Regions from separate parts of the Homo sapiens genome. Here region 2 is linked to region 1. Evidence: fine-mapped expression QTL. A gene starts in region 1. The other region holds a variant in brackets. All regions are shown on one strand. Distances are from middle to middle. Region 1 holds the start of CLIP4 (CAP-Gly domain containing linker protein family member 4). Region 2 overlaps TOGARAM2 (TOG array regulator of axonemal microtubules 2).

What was found. PIP is the estimated chance that this variant, and not a neighbour inherited with it, causes the effect.
Region 2: its variant is fine-mapped to the expression of CLIP4 in whole blood (INTERVAL, PIP above 0.99).

The regions. Positions count from the first base shown.
Region 1 is chr2:29,109,145-29,121,274 of GRCh38, forward strand. CLIP4 (CAP-Gly domain containing linker protein family member 4) reads left to right here and starts at 6,271. Exons shown (of 16, transcript NM_024692.6): 1 at 6,271-6,521. LOC105374386 (a long non-coding RNA gene) reads right to left here and starts at 5,600. Exons shown (of 3, transcript XR_007086265.1): 1 at 5,525-5,600. RefSeq lists silencers at 6,132-6,491, 6,682-6,921.
Region 2 is chr2:28,994,900-29,007,029 of GRCh38, forward strand. It overlaps TOGARAM2 (TOG array regulator of axonemal microtubules 2), which reads left to right. Exons shown (of 20, transcript NM_199280.4): 3 at 3,244-3,354; 4 at 4,282-4,569; 5 at 7,637-7,848; 6 at 8,593-8,783. Among named protein-coding and RNA genes, the nearest start is that of TOGARAM2, 20 kb to the left of the region's middle. The variant C/G (reference allele first, on the strand shown) is at 7,310.

The DNA of each region.
Region 1 (12,130 bases):
GGCAAGTGCTGGGGAGATTGTTGGACTGACATCCTCATGGAAACTGGCTTGTGTTATTTTTGTGTGCCAAAGATGCTTCTGGAGGCGTCTTATTGGCCAAAAATTTGGGGGGTGGCTGGTACCCGAAACTTAGCTTTTGTGCCACAGTGGCAATTTTCATCCTAATGCCATGTGACATTCCTTTTGTTCCGTCTTCCTTTATGTAGGCTTTAAGAAGACTTCAATTTTTTTTAAAAAATAAAAATACATCATAATTGCATATATTCATGAGGTACACAGTGATGTTGCAACACATATAATGTATAGTGATCAGATCACAGTCATTAGCACATCCATCATCTCAAACATTTGTTTCTTTGTGTTGAGAACATTCAATATCCTCCTTGTAGCTATTTGAAACCATATAATATATTATTGTTAACTATAGTTATCCTACAGAGTTATAGAGCACTAGAACATATGCCTCCAATCTAGCTGTAATTATAAAGAAGACTTTGCATCATGTGGTGTCTGAGAGTGGCAGCAACTGGAGGGTCTGGGGAGCAGTGCCCCATGTAGGAACATGCAAATTCCTTTGTTAGTGTCTTCTCAGGAACTAGGGCTAAGAAAAGGGAAAATAAATTTATAGAATAGGGCCGGCATGACAGCTCATGCCTGTAATCCAGCAGTTTGGGAGGCTGAGGTGGGTGGATCAGTTGAGGTCAATAGTTCAAGACCAGCCTGGCCGTCATAGCGAAACCCCGTCTCTACTAAAAATACAAAAATTAGCCAGCCATGGTGGTGTGCATCAGTAATCCCAGCTACTCGGTAGGCTGAGGCAGGAGAATCGCTTGAACCGAGGAGGTGGAGGTTGCAGTGAGCTGAGATTGCGCCACTGCATTCCAGCCTGGGTGACAGAACAAGATTCTGTCTCAAAAAAATAAAAAAAGAATAAACATAGAATAGCATGAAACTAAACTAGATCAACTGAATGGAAATATCTGAGGAGGTCTTTAAGGGTTTATTTTGCAAAAGATATCCAGGTGATTCTAATGCACAACCAGGAATGAGAAGCCCCATTCAGATAATAAGTCTCGTGCGGCTCAATGGAGTCCTCTTCAGTTTGTGGTCTACTTCAGCAGGCAGTCCCCACCTGCAACCTTGACAAAGGAGATGGATTAGAGGAGGGCAAGCCCAGGTAGAAGCAGTAGGAGGTTCCTGGGGTCTCCAGTGGCTACTGATTTGTAAGGATTTCTATGGTATGTGAATTTACTTAATAAATGATATCATAAACTTTTTGAAGAATGAAGACAGGGAGTTTGGTTTGGAGAATCCAAAAATATGATAGGAAGAAAGGATGACTCCAGTGAGCAAAAAGAAGAATAGAGTTGCCATTTACTGACATAGGGAAGGTTATGGGGAAGGGTTCCATTTTGAACATGTTCTATTTGTGATATGTAATGTATGCTGTAGAATGGATGTTGAGTAGGCAGTTGGATATACATCTGAGGTTCAGGGCTGGAGATAGAAATTTGGAAATCAGGAAAACAGAGATGATATTTGTTTATTTATTATTATTATTTGAGATGGAGTCTCACTCTGTCCCCTAGGCTGGAGTGCAGTGGCATGCTCTCAGCTCACTGCAACCTCCACCTCCCAGGTTCCAGCAATTCTCCTGCCTCAGCCTCCCAAGAAGCTGAGATCACAGGTGCACGCCACCATGCCTGGCTAATTTTTGTATTTTTAGCAGAGACCAGGTTTTACCATGTTGGCCAGGTTGGTCTTGAACCCCTGGCCTCAAGTGATCCTTCCTCGGCCACTGAAAGTGCTGGGATTACAGGTGTGAGCCACCACGCCTGGTCAATATTTAAAGCCATAGACTGAATAAGGTCACCTAGTGAATGAGAAACTGACTTCCTGGAAACTGCATGAACAAGGTGCTTATAGAACCACTGTAAGGGTTTCTCTGAGGCATATCCAGGAGGGTGACTGCTGAGTCATAAAGCATACTGCTAATTTTTTTCACTAAGCACTGCCAGGTTGATCTGCAGAATATATTTACCAGTTTAAATTTCCATCAGCAGTGCATCTTTCCCCAGATCTTTGCCAATATTTGGGATTATCTTTCTGATTTCTGCCATGCTGGTGGGTGAAGCAGTGGTGTGTTGAAAACAGTTCATGAGAGCTGATAAAGCACATTTCTTCCCAACTTCTTGTTCAGTGACCTCAAGCTACACTGGTAGCTGGAAACTGGCAGTGCTCAGAGTATTTGCACCATGGAAATTGGCAAACACTGTACGTTAGGACTTTTCCTTCCCTGGGGAGCGGGTTTTAAAACATAGACCAGCATATTGGTGGCTATGGGGTCACACTCTTTATATTCCCACTCTGATTACAAGTGGGGTTGAGCATCTCTTTAATGCTTGCTTGCCATTCTGGCTTTTCCTTCTGTGAATTGTCTATTCTTATACTTTTCTCATTTTTATATTGGCCTTTAAAATATTTTATATTGACTTCCTTTTGATTTGTGAAAAGTTCCTCATGCATTTCAGATATTAATCCCTAGTTGCTTTTGAACATAGCACATGTTTTCTTCCAATTTGTCAGCCATCTGTTAATTTTTTCTATGGTATTCTTAACTGAACAGAACCCTTAATTGTGATGCAGTCAAGTCATACAATTTTTTTTTGCTTCAAGGATTGTGCTTTTGCAAACCTGTTTTATGAAGTAAATTCCTAACCCACATTATAGAGATAGTCTCCTGCATTTTCTTTTGTATCATATGTAGGTCTGCCATTTATCTGGAGTTCACCTTTGTATATGGCAGAACATGGGGCTCTCAACTTTATTTTTCCTTGATAAATTAAAGCCAGTTTCCCGAATGCCGTCTTCTAAATAATTTATATTTTTCTCATTGATCTGTGGTACCACCTTTGTGTAAATGGAGGTAGCATTTATACGTGGGTCTGCTCCTGAGTTCTTCATTCTGTTTCCTATTTGCTCTATGTGTTCCTATACCAGTACCATAATATTTTTATTACTATGTGGCAATGACATAATATCTGGCATGGCAGGTCTGCTCTGGTTTTTATAATTGACTTAACTGTTTAAAATTTATTTCTCCTTATATATTTTGTAAGTTTGTTGAGTTCCCTAAAAATTTAGTTTCTGCTGGAATTTTGGTTGCCATAACATTTACTTTGGAGACTAAATGGATACTTTTACAATGTAAAGTCATCCTATCCATGCTGTATCTCTCCACTTATTCAATATTTTATGTCCTTAAATAGAGTTTTAAAATTTTCTCCTTAAAGTTTTTGCAAGTTGTTGGGTTAATTCCTGGATATTATGCTTTAGAGTTTGTTAAACTTTATTGTTATTGTGAATGGTTTCTTATTGTCTGTTACATTTCCCAGTTGCTTACTGCTGATGTAGACAAAACTATTGATTTTTAGAAACTGATCTTGTACTTGGCAACCTTGCTGAGCTAACATTACTTCTAATACTTTGTTGATTCTGTTGGGCTTTTTATGCTGATGATCACACCTGTAAACATCACAGACAGGAAGATATTAGGGGCTCTGCCCAGTGCTCTGATCTTTTGCATTTAAGCACTTCTGCTAGTTGAACTCCAATCTGGTGCCCCAATTCTGACAGTTGGGTGTCTCTCATGGTCCTAAGGGCCTAGGCCCCCTATACACTCACAAATTAGAAACTGATGATATTCCATCCCATATCCAGTCCATGTAAAAGCAGTGACCTTGTCTTCTTTTGCTATTTCCTCTAACCCTTTTATCATGGTCGGGGTCCTGAGAGCTGCTGACAGATCTTCCTGCTGCCGAGTGTCTGAATTCCTGAATGCTGCTCTATGCAGCCATTCTGGGTCTTTAATGCCCCCAAAGACAGCCTGTGTAGGTTAGCAAAGTAGTGAATCAACATAGGCCTTCAGATCAGACAGACTTAGGTTTGAATCTTATTTCTGCCCCTGGCTACATGGAGCAAGTCACGCAGCCTCCCAGAGTCTGCTTCTTCATTTGTAAAGTGAAGACAAGATTTCCATAGGTCAAGTGCCTTACAGTGGTCAGTGAGTAATGCCCTTTCTCCACACTGTGATGTTGACCAGTAAGTTGATCACCTCCTGACGCTGTGGATTATTGCTATACTTTTCAGGAACTTTGTGTCTCCAGATAGAATTGAATCTCAGCAGCTACAGTTGGTCCACATCCCCATGTGCCTTCCCACCCCAATGAATAGTTCAAGTTCCAAGTTCTGGCCACATATCATTGTCCAGTCTCACTCTGGTTAACTGGGCAATACCTGGTTCTAAAGCTTGTATGTCACGAGGTATTCTAGGAAGCATGACTCCAACGAGCACTTGCATTCTTGATGATGGTATAAAGAAGTAACGTCAGATTTTTGAACAAAGGCAACTAAGTGAGTGGGAGACTCTGGTGGCTTGGTATCCTGGGAATTTGCCTATGTATCATACAGTGTTTGGGTGTAGCAGATAAAGCCAGTGGCCTGGCTGGTTCTAACAGAGATCTTTATTATAACTAAGAACAACTGAGCTAGCCATGCCTTGTCACCTACTAATAGTGGTATTTCAGATGGATAATTTAAATCAGCAATAAAAGTGAACTGTATACGTTTGGAAACTTCACCAATAGCTACTCTGTTACACACAGATCTTTATGACTTTCTGTGGTTCAATGACAATTGGCCTCATTTATAGGTGCTTGAAGCCAACCAAGGGCAGATTGCCTTCCTTCTTTTAACCAGCTAAAGAGATGGGTGGGTCAGACAAGAAGAGGGTATGATGAAAGCAGGGAAAGGGAGGTGGACTCTTCAGAGGGAGGAGGAAGTATCCGTGTCACATTATCTCTGAGAGCACTCGCAGATGCTGAGCCTGCAGAGACAGAGAAACTGGCAGCTGACCAGGGTCAGGGATGGTCATGTATTCAAATATTGTGGGTTTTAGTCAAGTGTGCTCCACCCGATTCAACAATGTGATGTGACTGCTCCTAGCAACTATTTTGATATGGTGAATGTTGTTAAGCATAGGACCTAAGAAGAGGTGGCAGTCTCTTTCCTCTCCGCACTTGGCAGGCCACCCACTCATTCCTGATAATCACATTTAAGAGAGCTCTGGACAAGCTGGAATGCATCCAAGAGAATCCCTCAACATGCTGGTGAGTGGGATTGTGACCAGGTCATATCAGGAGTAGCCTAAGGGACAGGTAATGTGTGTCTTGGATGAATTGGAGTCAGACTTAAGAGTCCCCAGGGCAGAAACAAAATCCAGTGAGGGAGAGATGCAGGGAGCTGGATTTTAGCTCCTAAGGTAGAAAATTTCCAAAAGGCTGATCAAAGATTAAATGGCTGCCTTAAAAGGTAATGAGTTCCTTGTTAGTGGAGGTGTTCAACCACTGCTTGGTGGGAAGACACTGTAAGGAGGATTCAGGCAAGTGGGAAGGGGGCTTTTTCCAGTCCCTGAAATCAATGATTCTAACAGGAAAAGATGCTCCGGGGTGCGGTGAGCGCTTACCTCTGCTCTTGCAGAGACACTGACAGACGTTCATTCAACATCTGTTCCTGCCAGGCACTGTGCGCGCTGAACACAGAAGTACAGCCTCTATGAAGCAGCCGCTGTAGGCCTCAGAGACAGCTGATAGATGTAACACTGTTGTCTCCATGTTTCAAACTTCGGTCATGGTCTTACTAGGTCTCCTCATTAAGGGGACTCACTATGTGTCCAGTAACGCTTTCTTGTTACCAGATGACAGAGAGTCAGGCTGTCAGAGTTCACGACTTTAGGTGCACAGTTTCACCCTGTCTGGTCCTTGGGAGACGGAGAAGGGGTCAGGAGAAAACGTGGGTGAAGAGGCAGCAAAGCCGCAGGAGATATGAACTAATTGCTCAACGTGGGTGTAGCACGGATTAGGCCTTTTACAGCAAGCGCTGCCAGCAGGGAACTGGTGGATGTACTCTTGACCACGCTCGGCTGGACTCTGGGGAGCCCAAGACGGGTAAGACTAGGTCCCCGGCCCCAGCAGCTGGTGGGGGCGCCGCAGGTTAGAGACGTGAGGCCGCGAGGCTGAGGGCTGTGAAGGCGGTGGGCACGCACGGCGTGCCGGGGCCGCCTGGCTTCGCGGCGGGGGAGGTAACACTGCGACACCCCGCAGACGCTGTCAGCCGGGGTCGCGGCCCCGCGTGCGCCCGATCATCTGACTGCTGGGGAGTGCGGGGGCGCGGGAGCCAGGCGAGCCAGCGCAGGCGCGCGCTGCCTCCTCCGTCCCCACCGAGTCCCCAGCGCGTGCGCGGGGCCGTGGCCGAGGCCTGCGCGCCGCCCGGCCGCCTGCACTGCGCGCGCGCCCACCCCGCGTGGGAGGCAGCGGGAGGGGCCCGGAGAGGTGTGGAGCGGCGCGGCGGGAGGCTCCGTGGGCGGCCACGGGAGACAGCGCCGGCGGGAGCGCGCCTCTCGGCCTTTCCTCCGCGCCCCCGCGTCCCCAGCCGGCCGCTCCGAGAGGACCCGGAGGAGGCAGGTGGGCCGGGGGCGCGCGGGGCCCCCCCGGGCCGCGGGCTGGCCGGCGGCGGGGTTGGGGCCGGGGTGGGCGGCCCTGGGGGCCCGCGGGGAGGTCAGTGGCCCCGGGAGGGTCGCGCAGAGGCGCTGGGGGCTGTGGAAGCCCCGCGGCCGCCTCCCGTGGGCACCGGTGTCGCTGGCCGCGGGGAGGCCTTCTCGGGGCGGAGCGGCCCACCCGGCGGGGATGGGGACTCCTCGTGGCGGCCGCTGACGGACGGCCCAACTTTAGGTTGAGGGGCGCGGGGTGTGCGGGACCCGGCGGCGGAGCTGGGCTCTGGGCCACGACCGCCAGCCGCGGCTGCCCCGAGAGTCCCCGCACGCGCAGTGGCTTTCCAACGCGGCCTCTTCCCATTTCTCACTTGACTCCCCTTGCGCATTAAATTGTCGAGAAACCTTTGGCCAGTGGGTCTTCAAAGCTAAACCAAATGGCTGTCCTTGCAGTCCTTGGCTACCTGAGATCCCTTAATTCTGAACCATCCGCACCTGGGAGGGGAAGTTGAAAGGAGCGCTGGAGCTGAGCCCGCATCCTTAAGGATCCCATTCACTGCTTATGATGGTAGAGCTTTGAATTAGATGTCAGGCTGTTCACGTCATCCAGACTCTGGTTTTCAGCTCTGTGCTGAGACAGTGTTTTGATACGTATCAGAGGATGATGTTCCTATGGGACAATAACTTGCTGTATGTTCTGAGATACTAGACTGCGTTCATATTGTAGCACCATCATCGTATAAAACGGGCGCCTTTGAAAGGTTTCAGTAAACACCTTCCTCAGGAACATCCGCCAGCACTTAAATTGTACTTCACTTTCACTTTGACGTTTGTTGTTTGTGAATCTTGTGCACAATTTAAAGTGAGTCGTCTAAACAGCACAGGATCACGTGGTGCGGGGCATTGAGCAACTGGGGAGGAAAGCAGAGACTTGAACCTGCTGGAGTCTAGTTGGTCTGCGTTTTTATGTTGGAGAACCATCCTGGTTCCAGCTTATTTTGCTTTCGTAAATATGATGCATTTTTTAAATGCTTTCATTTGATACGGTCTATCTGGACTGTAAGATTGAGTCTAGCCATGCATGGAATGTGTTTACTTCTGTTTTGTAGAAGATTTAGCCCATGGTATTCTATTTGTAGGATTCATTTCAGACATTTTGTGTTTACCACATACAGTCCCACCAGCAAGGGCTTTTAAAAAAGTGACCTATGTTGTCTCTCATAGCTTATGACAACTCCAATTTTGACACGTGTTTGAAACTAGTGATCTTTAGATTATATAAAATCAACTTCACTCTTTCTCCCTGTTCAAACCTCAAACTCTGGTTACTTTTAGGCTTACTGCTCCCTTGTTAATTATTTATAATGAACTATGGAGCTATAGGCTTGCTTTAGTGTGTTAACCTTTATTTGTGTCTTGTTTCAGGCATTTGTATATTGTTTTCTCATCTGGAGAGTGAGCTGCACTGTTTTCCTTCAGTGCTGTTTAGAAGAGCTTTCGGAGACCAGAAACATGTTCTTTTTGCATTACCCAATATGGTAGCACTAGCCACATATAGCTTTTGACCACTTGAATGGGGCTAGAGCAGTGGAAGCACTGAAATTTTAATATTTTTTTTCTTTTCCTTTTCTCTCTCTCTTTTTTTTGTTTTTGTTTTTTTTTTTTGAGACGGAGTCTCGCTCTGCTCTGTCACCCAGGCTGCAGTGCAGTGGCCTGATCTCTCCTCACTGCAATCTCTGCCTCCCAGGTTCAAGCGATTGTTCTGCCTGAGCCTCTCGAGCAGCTGGGATTACAGGCGCCTGCTACCACACCCTGTTAATTTTTGCTGTGGGGTTTCACCATATTGGCCAGGGTGGTCTCGAACTCCTGACCTGAAGTGATCTGCCCATCTCGGCCTCCCGAAGTGTTGGGATTACAGGCATGAGCCACTGCACCTGGCCAATTTTTAAATTAATTTAAATAGTCACATGTGGCTAGTAGTTAGCTGGTCAGATGCCACAGCTTTAACTTATTAGTCTCCAGGAAGCCTTCGTTGACCCTCTTGAATCTGTGCTTTCATAGGACTCAGCTGTCCTTGGTCATAGCACTTACTACTTTCAACTTTCTGGTAGGAATCAACACTAGGCTGTAATTTATATGAGGGCAAGGACAGATCTGGTTTCTTTACCTTTGCATAGCTTAGAACTTAGTAAGAAAAACTGAATAAATATTTGTTAAATGCATAAATAGCTTTTTCAGGGCAGGTATTTCAATTTTTAATTCTCTCTAAGGCCAACTAAGTGTTCAGTACTGTAAATACCTGTTTAGTAGATTGTACAGATGTTATGTAGGTAGCAAATAAAAGGATCATTGGAGTTATGCTTTAAATACTTACGTGGTGAGATTGGAATCTCAGGAGAATGATGACTCATAACAAAGTATTACAGGAAATTGAATGAAAGGGCCTCATGATTCCAGCTAATGTAGACACAGCTTTGGTCTCCTATTAGTTGAATAACTCAAGGACACTCTTGAACCATATCTCAAATCTGAAGTCTCCTGGCTTCAGTAAGGCCCTTTTATGGGGTCCAGACAGTCCTGAACCAGCCTGAAGATGCTAGTGGACATCCCCATTTATTACTGCTCTGTGTTAAAGCATGGACCAAGGAGTCTTGGAAAAAAAATCACAAGGTATTTGAGCCACGTTATGTAAGATGCTTTTGCTAACAGCTAACTTGGAGTGATGAGTAGGGTGAAATTCCTATAGAAATCAGAGTTTGGGGAATTTGATTCTAGCTATTGTTAGTATCAGAGGCACCTGTTCTGTAGACAGTTGATTAGTGCCAATTTTTTTTTTTTTTTTTTGAGATGGAGTTTCGCTCTTCTTGCCCAGGCTGGACTGCAGTGGCGGGATCTCGGCTTACCGCAATCTCTGCCTCCCAGGTTCAAGCGATTCTTCTGCCTCAGCCTCCTGAGTAGCTGGGATTACAGGTGCCCTCCACCATGCCCAGCGAATTTTTTGTATTTTTAGTAGAGATGGGGTTTTGCCATGTTGGTCAGGCTGGTCTCGAATGCCTGACCTTGGGTGATCCACCTGCCATGGCCTCCGAAAGTGCTGGGATTACAGGTGTGAGCCACCATGCCTGGCAGGGCCAATATATATATATATATTTTTAACCTGAGGCTTACTTTATAATCAGTTATCACCAGTTAACCATAGTTGGATTTGGAATGAAAGTGTGTACTCAGTTCAGATCAGTATACTTAGACATTTGACCAAGAGTCCAGGTGTTGTAGGTCTTCAGATCCAGGAATTGCTTTTAGGAAATGAATCTGAGACTATAAGGAAGTTTATAGGGGTACATAGTTTCCTTTGGGAGGACAAAAGGTAGAATGTTAAGTTTTTCACGAAAATAAGGAAATGTAACTAGAGAAAAACGCAACAAAGACAAAATACAAAGAATGTTCACTGCATTGGTCAGGTAATATTGTAGCTTCTTCTGGACTTGAAGTATCTAATATGTAAAAGAATGAAGCTGGTTACATCTGATTGCATGAATCCTCTTTCCACTTTGAATCTAAGCTTTGAATATTAGTTAAATATGTGTAACACACTATTCTAGCTCCTGTGGTGACTGCTAGTTGTGTACGATAGAGTTCGTATCTTTGAGGATCTCAACAGTTTACAAGGAAATGAAAGGTGCTCTGGGGATCACTTAAAATTTTTTTTTTTGAATGGGAGACTCCACCCTTTGAAAGGGAAGTCATGTGGTGACTCCTCTTAACCGACTCAGACAGATATCCACTGAATCTTTTTGCTGAAGAATTAAGAGTATAAAAACATGTCTGAGTCCCAAACCGTGATTATAGTCAGATTAATTTTCCTAAAACAGCTTTAATCATGTTACTCTCTTTAAAAAAATCAGTAGTTTCCCAGTGCTCATGAAAGTAAGTGGTTTGGTCTTTGATGAGGTATTTGCTCCTCAGTACAGCCCTAAAAAGCCCTTACAGCCTCACCTCTGACTGTTTTCCTAGTCATATCCCAAGTTCCAGCCTACTGTTCTTTTAATGGGATCCCCTTTTATATTGATACCTATTCATCATTCAAGACTCATCACAGATGATACCTTCTTCACCATTTATGATTCTTAGAAGCTCCAACTGCAAATGTTCCTGGTACTTATGTGATGGAGCAGATCCCATTCTGCCTCATAATCTATAGTTATTAGTGGTATTTTATTCACCTTAATAGATTGTAAACTACCTAAGAAGCATGGACCATCTGTTAACTCATTTTTGTATTTGCTGAAACATCTAGAATAGTGTCTTGTATATAGTGGTTCCTTAATAAATACTCATTACTGTTTGGAATTGATAGTATTTGAGGAAGATCACCGCTGCTCTATAACACTAATTCCATGAACTTGTCATTTTCCTATTTATGTGGCAAGGTTAATGTCAAAATGCTTCTAAGTATTTGGTGGTAAGTAATTTTAGCATCCAAGAAAATGTGAATACCTTAAAATAGTAACAACTGGATTAGGTTACCTAATATATAACATCTATATCCATATAAGCATACGATTTTTGAGGAAAAAGAAAGCCTCCTACTTTTTACCAGTTCCTGCCAGTATTAAGAAAACATGAATCAAGTTAGGAAGACAACAGTGAGCTCAATGAAATGACTGTTTTATTGTAGTGGGGAACTGATGGTAAGGATAATTGAGTTAGATATAGGGTTGGTTAAGTAGAACAGAGCACACATTAAGTAGTAGCTAGTATGGTGTTGTCTACTACCAGATCAAGCCATTGATTACCTATTTTTATTCTGTGCTTTCTACTGAAATAATCTAAACTCATTTTTCATTTAGTTTTATAATGTTTTGCTTACATTTTAAAAACAGGAATTCATGATACTTCAGATAGTAAAGATCGGATACAAAAGAAACTGGAAGGCTTTTAGCTTCATAAGTTTGGTTTTACTAGCAGTTTCTCTGCTTTCTACATCATTTCTGAGATGTAGGCTAGGGTGTAGTACAAAGTCTAATTTAGAGCAAATTTATTCTAAGCACTCATGTTTTCTGGGAAAAAGAGGTAATATAAGCCATGTGCTTTAAAAGGCATGGCTTCCATCTTTGGCCAGGATAGAACTCACATACCTCGGACCTTGTTAAGTTGAACAATCTTAGTAAACTCTTAGATTTGTAAGAGGGATATGATTAATTTTCAGTAAAGTTTTCTGGGATAGAAAATAATGGAAACATTTTAAGGTAGATTATCTTCATGTGATGAGCACATGGCATGAGCTATTGGATGACAAATGATGTAACTTGTGCCAGTGTTATGGGAAGTTAAAGATCCATCTACAAGGGTTAATACGCCCTTGTTTGTTACATGAGTAGGAGGATTTCACCCATTTAGATTAGCTCAGCATTTAAAGTGTTTTCACCTATTTTATATTCCTTTTGAGCTTTGTCTAGAGAGATTACATGTGCTACCGACTGGTATAAGAGGTGGTGTGAAGCAATGTATGCCTTTTAACAACAGTTTTGCCAAAAGGAATTTTTTCCCTTTCATAAAAGATCCTTACTGAAAATGTCAGCA
Region 2 (12,130 bases), 110 kb before region 1:
CCAGGCTAGGGGACCTGCCTCGGACACTCCCAAGGGCCAGAAAAAGGGAGATGTGGGGATAAAGGGCTGCTGGGAGATAACAGCCAGGTGGCCGTGCCTTTCCAGCCCTGGCCAGCTCCCCACATGCTGCCGCTCAGCTGGCTGTCTGGGTGGCTCCCTGGCCTAAGGAGGTGCTTGGTGTTCCAGGGCCTTGGCCTGAGCTTTATCTCCACTCTCTGCAGCAGGGTGGTTGGTTCCTTGAGGGGCTAATTCTGTTCTGTGGTCAAGGTTATGTGGATGGGCAGGGGATATGGGCCGGGCCCTCAGGGAGGGTGAACGACTCTGTTTCCTTAGCCAACCAAGTGGGGTAGTGGGAGCAGTGTGTGGCCAGTTAGCATCAGGAGATGGGCCTTGAGGCCTGGCTCTGCTTTTGGGAGCTGGCTGGGTGAGCCTCAGTTTCCCCTGGAAAGTGAGGGGATTGGTTCTGCCCCAGATGAAATGGGTGCTAGCAAGGTGCAGAGCTGCTTCATCCTGCATGGGCTGGAGCAGGGGCCAGATGGCCATTTGGAAGGAAGGCAGAGAAGCAGGATGGCCAGAGCAGCGGTTCAGGAGACAGCGCATGATGCACACGGCAGAACTCCCCGGGGCTTCGACATATGAATCGGAAAAGACCTGCTTACTTTAGTGCTAAAGCAGATCCCACCTGAATGTAGATTCCAGTGGAGAAGTGGGAGGTGCTGAGATCTTAGAAAGAAAAATCTACAAATCTAGAAATAGGATAAAGATGTTGTATGAACCTTTAGTGCTGTCAACTCCTTTGCTTTACTGATGTGGGAACTGAGACTCAGAGAAGTTAGCTTATTTCCTCAAGGTCACACAGGTGGAAAAAGTGGGAACCCAGGCTCCTGAGTTCCAGACTAGGAGTCTTGCAGCCTGGGGATGGACGAGCTGGGTTTCCACCTGCGTGGTGGCTTCTCCAGGTGGTGGCTTAGGTCCCCATGGATGGTCCTGAGGTGGGCTCGGGAAGGGCTGAGCCAGGAGGGTGTGGGACCCACGTTTGTGAAGTGCCTACTTAGCAGCAGGTACAGTACTACAGAGATGAGTAAGACACAGTGACTGTTCCTAGGGAAGCTGCAGGGCAGGAACAGAGAGAGGCATGGGGAAGAGAGAGTAACACAGGGCTGTGCCTGGGGCTGTGGGAACACAGGAGAGGGAGGGCTTCTCTTTCTCTTTTAAAAATATTGACACATAATAGTTGTACATATTTTCTGGGTGTACATGTGATATTTGGATACAGGCATTCAATGAGTAATGATCAAATTAGGGTAATTGGGATTTCCAGCACCTCAACCACTGGCCATTTCTTGATGTTGGGAACATTCCAATTCTAGCTATTTTGAATTATACAATACATTATTATGAGCTATAGTCACCCTACTATACTATCAAACAATAGCTCTCATTCCTTCTATCTAACTGTATTTTTGTACCCATTAACCAACCTCTCTTCATTCCACCCCCTTCTCTTCCCAGTCTCTGGTAACCACCATTCTGTTCTCTGCCTCTGTGAGACTGACTTTTTAAGCTCCCATATATGAATGAAAACAAGTAGAATTTGTCTCTCTGTGCCTGGCTTACTTCACTTAAGATAATGACTGCCAGGCTGGGAGTGGTGGCTCACATCTGTAATCCTAGCACTTTGGGAGGCAGAGGCGGGCAGATTGCATGAGCTCAGGATTTCGAGACCAGCCTGGGCAACATGGTGAAACCCTGTCTCTATGAAAATACAAAAAAATTAGCTGGGCATGGTGGCAGGTGCCTGTAATCCCAGCTACTAGGGGGAGCTGAGGCAGGAGAATCACTTGAACCCAGGAGGCGGAGGTTGCAGTGAGCCGAGATCGCACCACTGAGACTCCATCTCAAAAAAAAAAAAAAAAAAAAAAAAAGATAATGACCTCCAGTTCCATCCATGTTGCTGCAAGTGGCAGGATTTGATTCTTTTTTTATTCTTTTTTATGGCCTAATAGTATCCCATTGTGTATATGTGCCACATTTTCTTTATCCATTCATCCATTGATGGACACTTAGGCTGATTCCATGTCTTGGCTATTGTGAATAATGTAATAAACATGAGAGTGCAGATAGCTCTTCAATGTACTGATTTACTTTCTGTTGGATATTCATCCAGCAGTGACCTCAAAAGCACAGGCAACAAAAGCAAAAATAGACAAATGGGATTCCATCAAGTTAAAAAGCTTCTGTAGACACAAGGAAACAGTCAATAGAGTGAAGAATAGGAGAAAATATTTGCAAACTATCCATCCGACAAAGGATTAATAACCAGAATATATAAGGAACTCAAACAACTCAGTAACAAAAACAGAGAATCTGCTTTAAAAACTGGCAAAAGATGGAAGGCTTCTTAAAGGAGCGCATGCCTTAGCTGAACTTCCCCTCCTCTTTCCTGACTCCTGCTCCCTGTATGCTCTCAGCTCAGTGGTCCCTCCCTCTGGGAAGCTTTTTCTGTCCCCATCTCTGGCCGGGCTCCCAGGCCCCGCACTGTCATTGCTTCTTAATCATTGTGTTCTCCGCCAGACTTCAAGTCTCACTGAGGACTGAGTCAGCCTTGCCCACTACTGTCTCACTGCACAGAGAGTGTTCACAAATCTCTGTGTCGCGGATAGAGGGTGTCTTTTGCTGAGCCGAGGGACGTTAGGAGAGAAGAGGGAAGATCAGTGTAGGACATGCTGATGAGGTGCCTGGGGACTTCCAAAAAGGAATTGGCAAGGTAATTGGATGCTCTGTAACGGGTGGGATTGGTCAGGGCGGAAGCCGTAGGGTAGGGGATTATCTGCAGGGTGTGGCAGTGAGGAAGTGTCCTGGGGAGAGCAGCTGGTGGACAGAGGTTGGGGATGGGCACTCCATCGGTCAATGATGTTGGGTGATGGAAGAGGGGTGCCCATGAAGGAGATGAAAAGGCATGGAGGGGGGTTTGGAACAAAGCCAGGATGCGAGGAGGGAGGAGGCAGCCAGGCTGAGAGGCTGGGGCAAGCGGGGTTGGAGGGATTTGGTGGAGATCACAGGCACCCTGCCTGGCCCTGCCAGGCTCTGGTGTTGGGGGTGGGGCCACCACATGCCTTGGTTTTTTGGGCAGGGACCCTGCGGGGTGGAGTGCTCAGGGTTACGGCCGGGTGTTCTTGGTTTGCTCCCAGTCTTGGCCTTGGAGGACTCTCAGGTGCTGCTCTCCTGTGCTTCTGTCTCCAGCCAAGGTCCTGGTCCCCGTGGCCGTGTACTGCGGGAGCATCCCTCGGACCAGTGCTGGGCCCCGGGTGCTCCCGCCTGGAAGCATCAACTCCAGTCTGCCTCATGGAGAAGGTGAGATGGGAAGACCTCACCTGGTCAGGGCCCCTGGCCTCATCCTGGAGCGGGGAGTGAGTGTGGTAGATGCCGGCTGTGTTCTCGAGCTACCAGCAGGTGTTATTTTTCCTGTGGCTCCTGCTGAAAATACCCTTTGATTCTTTCAAAGGCAGGTTCTTTTGATCCTGTGCCTCAGAGGTTGGAGGTGTGCAGAGGGGGACCCGCAGGAATAGGGAGCAGGGCTCTCTGCATGCGCCTGGACCTGGGAGTGCACTCAGCACCCAGGTTGGCAATGGGGAGGGGGCCCCTCTCAAGATGTCCACTCAGCGTCTCTGCCACTTGTCCAGCATCTGCAGCCTGGGTCTCTGGAGGGGCTGGGTTGTGGCCAAGCTTCTGAGAGCCCACCTGTCTGAATGCTCCCCCAGGGCCCAGGTGAAGAGCACCACTTCCTGAAGGTCTTCTAGAACCTCTTACCTCCTCTAAATGTGCAGAGTATTTTGTTTCTCTCCCATCTGGTGTGTCTGCTGGGGGTGGGGGTGATTTGCTCTGAGATGCCTGAGTTCCTCCTTGTAGTCTGTGCTTGGCATAGGTCAGTGCTCGGGGATCTGATGACTTTGTTGGACCCTGGAGATTGGTGGATGGTGGTCCCTGGGCAGACGACCTTCCCTATGATTCACGGCCTCTTGTCTGTGCTGCCATAGGACTGCCTGTGGATTCCCCCTTTTGTCCTGAGCACCTTGTGGCATGGGTCTTGTGAAGATTAGGTGCTTCAGAGACACTGTCGAATGAATGACTCGTCCCCAGGAGTGACTGAAACATTAAATGACTGGGTTTCACCAGGCAAGTGGCTGCCTGTTAGAAGGAAGCAATGTCAAGGAGCTTGCTGGTGCCTGGTGCCACCCTGGGTACTGCGTGCCAAGCCATTCACACCTCTGTCCCCCTCAGGTTCTCTCCAGCCTGAGCCAAGAGCCCTGCTGAACAACGAGGAACCGTCACAGCTCCTGCGTGGACTCGGACAGCTGGGTGGCCTCAAGCTGGACACCCCTTCCAAGGGCTGGCAGGCAAGGAATGGTCACCCCAGGAACCTCAGGGCCTTGTCTTTGGGGGACCAGCCCCTGGTGCTCCTCCCTTCTCCGGAGTCAGAGGCCAACAGCGTGGCCAGGGACACCATCCAGATTAAGGACAAGCTCAAGAAAAGGAGGCTCTCAGAGGGCTTGGCAGCGTCTTCCCGAGGTGAGCACTGGCCCCTGCCCACCCCTCACCCACCCACTTCCAGGTCAAGGGCCGCAGGCCTCCAGGGCTGTGAGGGTCAGCAGGCTTCCAGGTGGCATGCTGGGATGCCCTGGGGGTGATCGGTGGGTACATACCAGGTACCTTCTCTATGGCTTCAGCGACCTCCTTGGAGCTGAGCCTCCCTCCCGGGCTCTGCAGTGCTTCCCGACTGGCCTCTTCATTCCCACCCTTGCGCCTTCTAGTCTTGCTCCAGAAGGATCCTTTTAAGCAAATGTTCTTCCCATTTCCACCAACTATGCTCAAAATCAGCCAGTAGGTTTTGGATGTGCTTAGACTAAGATCCCAAATGTTCCCTTATGCACAAGACCTTCTGGCCCTGGCCTCACCCCAACTGTGTCACTCTCTGCCTTCGGTCTCTGCTGTCCAGGGCCTGGGGCTTGTGGGCTCTTTCCTGCCTGAGGTTTAGAGCCACTGCTCCTCCCCCACCCCTCCTCCGTTTCCCACTCAGAAAATCCCCACCCAGCCTCCCTTCTTGGCTTCAAAGCCCTCCTCAAAGAGGCCTCCTTGACTCCCCAATGTGAGTTTGCCCCTTAGGATGCTCTCCAATAATGCCCTATCATTTTTTTCCTTCAGTTCTTTTCATGGTTTGCATTTATATTTTTACTTTTGTGACTATTTAAAACCTGAATCTTGCATGTAATTGTCAGCTCCAAGAGGGCAGTGACTGAGATCTCGGTGTGAGGCACAGTCGCTTGGCAGCTAGGAGGCTCTCAAGAAACGTTTGTTGAGCAGATGAACAAGGGATTCAACAGCAGGCACTTTATACTGTCTCTCATCTGTGTGGTGGACAAGCCAAGTTCAAATCTTAGCCCCGATACTCACTGGCTCTGGGGCCTTGGGCAGGTCGGTAACATTTCAGGCCTCGATTTCCTCCTCTGTGGAATGGGGACACTATTAATAATACTTCTGTGTTACTGTGGGGGTTTAATGAAAACTTGTACACAGAATTCTCAACACCTGGCATATGGGAAGAACTTAATACATTGTTACTATTTTCCTTCCTTCTCTCCTCTTCTGGGTGAATCATACGGGCTCTTTTCAGCGGAATGAACTCTTGGGTAACAAGAGCAATAAGAAGTCTTGAGGTCTTAGGAAGAAAGGGGAAGTGCTCTCAAGAGGCACGTGGTTGCTGCCGTCAAGCCTGGGGTTGTGGTTGGCTGTTCTTCCCCTCCCCTGTGCAGACTGCTCCACCTGCTGAGCCTCTCCCTGGAGCCGTGGGGTGTCTCCAGCTCCCGGGGAGCCCAGGACAATGCCAGGGAGCCTCTGGGAGGAATTGTCCTGGCTGCACATTATGGAGGCAGAAGGTGGGGTTGGAATGCCCGAGAAGCTTCCTTAGAACTTCCAGTAGGTACAACTCCTAGAGCTGCCAGACCAACAACTCTCTCCCTTAGGGGCTTGAAGCCCTTTTCTAGATATTTCATTTCTTTTTTACAAAGTTCCAGCATAGGGAAAAAAAGAATGGAGTTGTTCTACCTAATGTTCTGATGGGCAGTGACCTATAGACTTATCAGGCCCCTCAGCAAGCATGGAGGGCCGGGGATCTCTGGCCCCCGGGCAGTGCTGGGGCTGCTCTGGCCCCTGCATTGAGGCTGAGTTGACTCCTCTGTGCCCTGACCCAGCTGGGGCTCAAGGTGGCCCGGCAAGTGGCACAGTCTCCACTTGACCACACCCCTTCTTTTCCATCCTTTCAGCTCCCCACAGGCTAACCACAACACAACAGTGCTCCAAGACAGAACAGAACCAGCACCGGAAGCCAGGAGGGGAGCGAGTGTGCAGGAACAGAGATGATATTTTGACTTGGCTGGTTTATTTTTTTTTAATTTTTTTTTTCTGGAACAGAGTCTCGCTCTGTCACCCAGGCTGGAGTGCAGTGGTGCGATTTTGGCTCACTGCAACCTCTGGGTTCAAGTGATTCTCCTGCCTCAGTCTCCTGAGTTGCTGGGATTACAGACAACCACCACTAGGCCCAGCTAATCTTTTTTTTTTTTTTGAGACCGAGTCTTGCTCTGTTGCCCAGTCTAGAGTGCAGTGGTGCGATCTCGGCTCACCGCAACCTCCACCTCCCAGGTTCAAGCGATTCTCCTGCCTCAGCCTCCCCGGTAGCTGGGACTACAGGCATGTGCCACCACGCCCGGCTAATTTTTAGTAGAGATGGGGTTTCACCATGTTGGCCAGGCTGGTCTTGAACTTCTGACCTCCAGTGATCCTCCCGTTCTCGGCCTCCCAAAGTGTGTGGGATTACAGGCGTGAGCCACTGCGCCTGGCCTGACTTGGCTGTTTTGATGCAGTGGTTTTGTTGAGGCCAGAATGAAAGTTAAAATGCTAGTCTTTTTTTTTTTTTTATTCCTCATCACTGATATTTACAAAGATAACCCTGAGCTCTTGGCCCAACCCAGTGCTTCTTGCCCTGTGCCTTTGCCTGAGGCATGGCTGTGGGGTGAGATGGGGTGGGGCACAGGGCGCTGAAGATGTCTGTTGGGCACCTAAAGCATTCAGAGGGGAGCTGGAAGTGTGGCGGTCTGTCTTAGACTATGTTAGCTGTGTCAAAACAGCTACGCCCCACATCACCAGCCGAAAAGGAAGGGGAAACAGTGGCAGGTACTTGCCTGGCATCTTATATAAGTGATGTTATTGAATCACCCCATTTCACAGAAGTGTAATGGGGTTCAGAGAGACAGTG[C/G]CTTGCTCGAGGTCACATAGCTTCTACCCACGGCCAGGACCTGCCATGCTTCCTCCTGATCTGGCACTGCTTTTATTTCCCTTCCTTCCCACGCTGCCTCTGAATTCTAAACAGGTAACTTGGATTGGCCCTTTCTGGAATGGCACAGACACTCAGAAGTGGCTGCTTGCTCAGTCTACCAGTGGTGGGGTTGGGGACAGATCTGATCTCTCTCCTCGCCATCCCAGTCCTTCCCAGGGCAGAAGGCCCCGTTGCTGGGGTCTGAATCCACCTTCCACTCCCTGTTCTTCTGGGACTAACTGATTTCCCATCCCCATCCCTGTACAGCCTCTCTGGATCCAGGGGGAGGCCCCCAAGGAGTTCCCCTGCACAGCACCATCCCCCGAGCCACCTCTCAGAGGCTGCTGAGGGTGCCCAGGCCGATGCCTCTCATCCAGAGCATCCCTACCACCCCTGAGGCCAGCGGAGTCAAAGAGAAGGGCCTGGACCTACCGGGGAGCATTCCGGGTCCTCACGAGTTGAGACCCGGTGCTCAGGAGGTAAGGTGGTTCGACTGCTGTGAGTCTGGTCCTCAGCTTCTTGCCCTCCCTTCCTCCTGCCTTTCTTTCTAGCCTCCACCAACCCCTGACTCCATGCCCTGAGCATCCCTGGAGGTGTCTTGAGGTCTGCAGTGAGGATAGGGACAGCACTGGGAGAGGCTCAAGGTGCTCATTTCACCACCTCCCCCAGCATCTCAAACCTCCATAGCTGGCCTGGGGGCTCTGGGTGGCTGTGCCAGAGGCTGCATGACCTTTGTCCTAGAACTGGTGGTCCCCTAGGCCTTCTCTGGTCTAAATGTTCCAGAATTCCTCCTGCTTTCTGGCCCTCTCCATTTTAAGCAAGAGTGTGGCAAAGAATGCTGGGCTAGGACTCAGATTTGGGCCTTGGTTTCTGTTTGCCCCTCACTGGCTGTGTGACCTTGTGCAAGTCACACCCCTCTTTGGGCCCCAGTTTGCACATCTATGAAAATAGAGGTTTGGCCCAGATGTGTTTGAAGGTCCTTCCAGCTCTGATGTTCTAGGATTTTTCTGAAATGAGAACAGAAAAACGAATAATAATAGTCACAAAAGGGCTTGCCAGTCTCCTCACCAGGAGTGGTAAGGAAGCAGTCAGGCTTCTGGGGGTCCCAGGGTGGTGTGGCTGAAAAGAGACAGCAGGTCCCACACTGTGTGAGGTGCCTGGAGGTGAGCATTCACCATGGGATGTTGCCATAGGCCAGACCCCTGTCCCGCCTCTGCTCCCAGGCGCAGATCTCCTGGCAATACCTGCACTGCAATGATGAGAAGATGCAGAAGTCCCTGGGCGCCATCGTGATCCCACCCATCCCAAAGGCCAGGACGGTTGCAGCGACCCCCTCCCGTGTGCCTGGCTCCCTTCCCAGCCCGTTACCTCCAGGCCAGGGAGTCCTCACAGGCCTGAGGGCCCCACGCACGCGGTAAGAGCTCCAAGTCAAACCTTCCTTGCTGACTTCTCTCCCTCTGTCCCCCTGAGATCCACTGGGGCTCCTTGTGGCTGACCCTCCATGCTGTGGCAGAGTTCTTGGGACACCAGGCAGGGAAAGGGCTGGGGGCTCCACCCATGAGCCACAGACCTAGGGAGGTCCCAGCATGGTTGCCGGGGCTTCTCTGCCTCTTGGCTCCGGCAGGCTGGGTCAATGGCATCACGAACAATGTCTCCAGCCTCTGTCTTCTCCCAGTGCCTTAGTGGATGAGGTTGCCGGAGTAATGAATAAAACACTAATTATTTTATCTCATATATATAATTTTGAGATGGAGTCTCACTCTGTCGCCCAGGCTGGAGTGCAGTGGTGTGATCTCAACTCACTGCAACCTCCGCCTCCCGGGTTCAAGCGATTCTCCTGAGTAGCTGGGATTACAGGCACCCACCACCATGCCCTGCTAATTTTTGTATTTTTAGTAGAGACGGGTTTCAGCATGTTGGCCAGGCTGGTCTTGAAACTCCTGACCTCAGGTGATCTGCCCTCCTTGGCCTCCCAAAGTGCTGGGATTATAGGTGTGAGACACCGTGCCCGGCTATGAATAAAACACTATTTTAAAGCATGATTGAGTTCATGGCAGCTCTTTGTAATTAAATATTTTCTTAATTGATGGATACTAAAAATACAACCAGTATCATGTGTATGGGGGACAGTCCACAAACTTTTGGACTTGAAAAGGGGTCTTCATATCCCACAAACAAGTGGGGAAGAGGATCTTTGTGTTGGCATAAATCGGGTTATGGCTTGTAAGTAAGACAGTGCTCTAGATGGCCAGCAACATCCCCGTGGTCAGTCCAGAGTGATGTCAGAGCACGTGTGTGTGAGAGTGAGTGTGTCTGAGTGTCTTTGTGTGTGCACACATGTATGAGTGCCTGCAGGTATGTGTGAGTGTATGTGTATGAGTGTGTATGTGTGCATGTATATGTGAGTATATGCATGTATGTGAGTACAAGAGTGTGTGTGTCTGAGTATGTGTATATGTGTGAGTGCATGCATGTGTGTGTGTGTCTGAGTGTGTGTGTGCATGAGTGCAAGAGTATGTGTCTGAGTGTGTCTGAGTGCATGTGTGGAGTATGTGTGTGCATGTATGTGTATGAGTGCATCTGTGTGGAGTTGTGTGTGCATGTGTGTGGAGTGTATGTGTACATGTGTGAGTGCATGTGTGTGCATGTGTACGTGTGTGAGTGCATGTGTGTGCATGTGTGTGCATGTGTATGTGTGTGAGTGCATGTGTGTATGTGTGTGAGTGCATGTGTGTGCATGTGTATGTGTGAGTGCATGTATGTGAGTGCATGTGTGTGCATGTGTATGTGTGTGAGTGCATGTGTGTGCATGTGTATGTGTGAGTGCATGTTGTGAGTGCATGTGTATGGGTGTGTGTGCATGTGTATGTGTGTGAGTGCATGTTGTGTGTGAGTGCATGTGTAAGGGCATATGTGTGCAGTGTGTGTGTGCATGTGTGTGGGTATGTGTGCATGTGTGTATATGTGTGTGGGACCATGTGTGTGAGTGCATGTGTGTGGAGTGTGTGTGCATATGTGTGTGTGTGCATGTGTGTGTGTGGGGTATGTGTGCATGTGTGTGTGAGACCGTGTGTGTGCATGTGTGGAGCGTATGTGTGAGAACGTGCATGTATGTGGGTGCATGTATGTGGAGTGTGTGTGTGCGTGTGTGAGAGCATGCATGTGCGTGAGTGCATGTATGTGAGAGCATGTGTGACTGCATGTGTGTGCATGTGTGCATGTGTGTGAGTGCATGTGTTTGTGTAACTACGTGTGTGAAGCCATGTGTGGTGTGTGTTCATGTGTGTGGAGTGTGTGTGCATGTGTGTATGTGTGTGAGGGCATGCATGTGTGAGCATGCATGTGAGTGCATGTGTGGAGTGTGTGTGCATGTGTGTATGTGTGTGAGGGCATGCATGTGTGAGCATGCATGTGAGTGCATGTGTGGAGTGCGTGCATGTGTGAGTGCATGTGTGCATGTGTGTGAGCACATATATGTGTGTATGTGTGTGTGTGAGTACATGTGTGGAGTATCTGTGTGTGCATGTGTATGAGTGCATGTGTGTGAGTGCATGTGTGTGCATGTGTATGTGTCAGTGCATGTGTGTGCATATGTGTCAGTGCATGTTGTGAGTGCATGTGTATGTGTGTGAGTGCGTGTGTGTAAGTGCATGTGTGTGGAGTGTGTGTGTGGGGTATGTGTGCATATGTGTATTTGTGTGTGAGACCGTATGAGTGCATGTGTAGGGTGTGTATGTGTGCGTGTGTGTGTGAGACCATATGTATGTGAGTGCATGTGTGGAGTGTGTGTGTATGTGTATGTGTGAGAGCACGTGTGTGTGTGTGGGGTGCATGTGTGTGGAGTGCATATGTGTGTGCATGTGTGTGAGAGCATGCATGTGCGTAAGTACATGTGTGAGCATGTGTGACCACATGTGTGTGCATGTGTGTGAGTGCATGTGTTTGTGTGTGTGACTGTGTGTGAAGCCATTTGTGGAGTGTGTGTGCATGTGTGTGGAGTGTATATGTGTGCATGTATGTGTGCATGTGTGTGTGTGAGTGCCTGTGTGTGGAGTGTGTGCATGTGTGTGTATGTGTGTATGTGTGAGTGCATGTGTGTGCATGTGTATGTGTGTGAGTGCGTGTGTGTGAGTGCATGTGTGTTCATGTGTATCTGTGTGTGTGCATGTGTGTGCATGTGTATCTGTGTGTGAGTGCATGTGTATGTGTGAGTGCATGTGTGTGGAGTGTGTGTGCGTGTGCTCAGGGCCTATGGGCCTGGCTCCTTCAGTAGAGTCACAATCCAGTTCCTGCTGTGACTGCTTCCCTCCCGTTTCTTGGGGCCTGATGACTTGGATTCTTCCATTTTTCTCACACTTCCTCATTCCCTCCATCTCCCTGGTGCCTTCCCTCTGTGCACACACATATTCATGTCTTTCTCCGACCCTGTGGGTTATAGAGACCCGTCCATGTACCTGCTCCTGGATTCGAGTTCTCTATTCAGTTTTCACCGTCAGCCTCCTCAGACAGCAGCTTGCTCCACTGACCTCCGCCTCCTCACCATTGCACACGTCCTCCCCTTTCCCACTCAGACGCTGGCCTCTTCCTCCCCTCGGAGCAGCCTTATCTGTGCCTCTCATGACTCACTGGCCCCAGACCTGTGGCCTTTCCTCTTATCTCTTTACTCTTGACTTTTTTGCATCATTTGAACCATGGATGGCCCTTGAATTTTTCTTCTTTTTCTGCATCCTGACTTTATACCTGCTTCTCGACCTTCCAGGC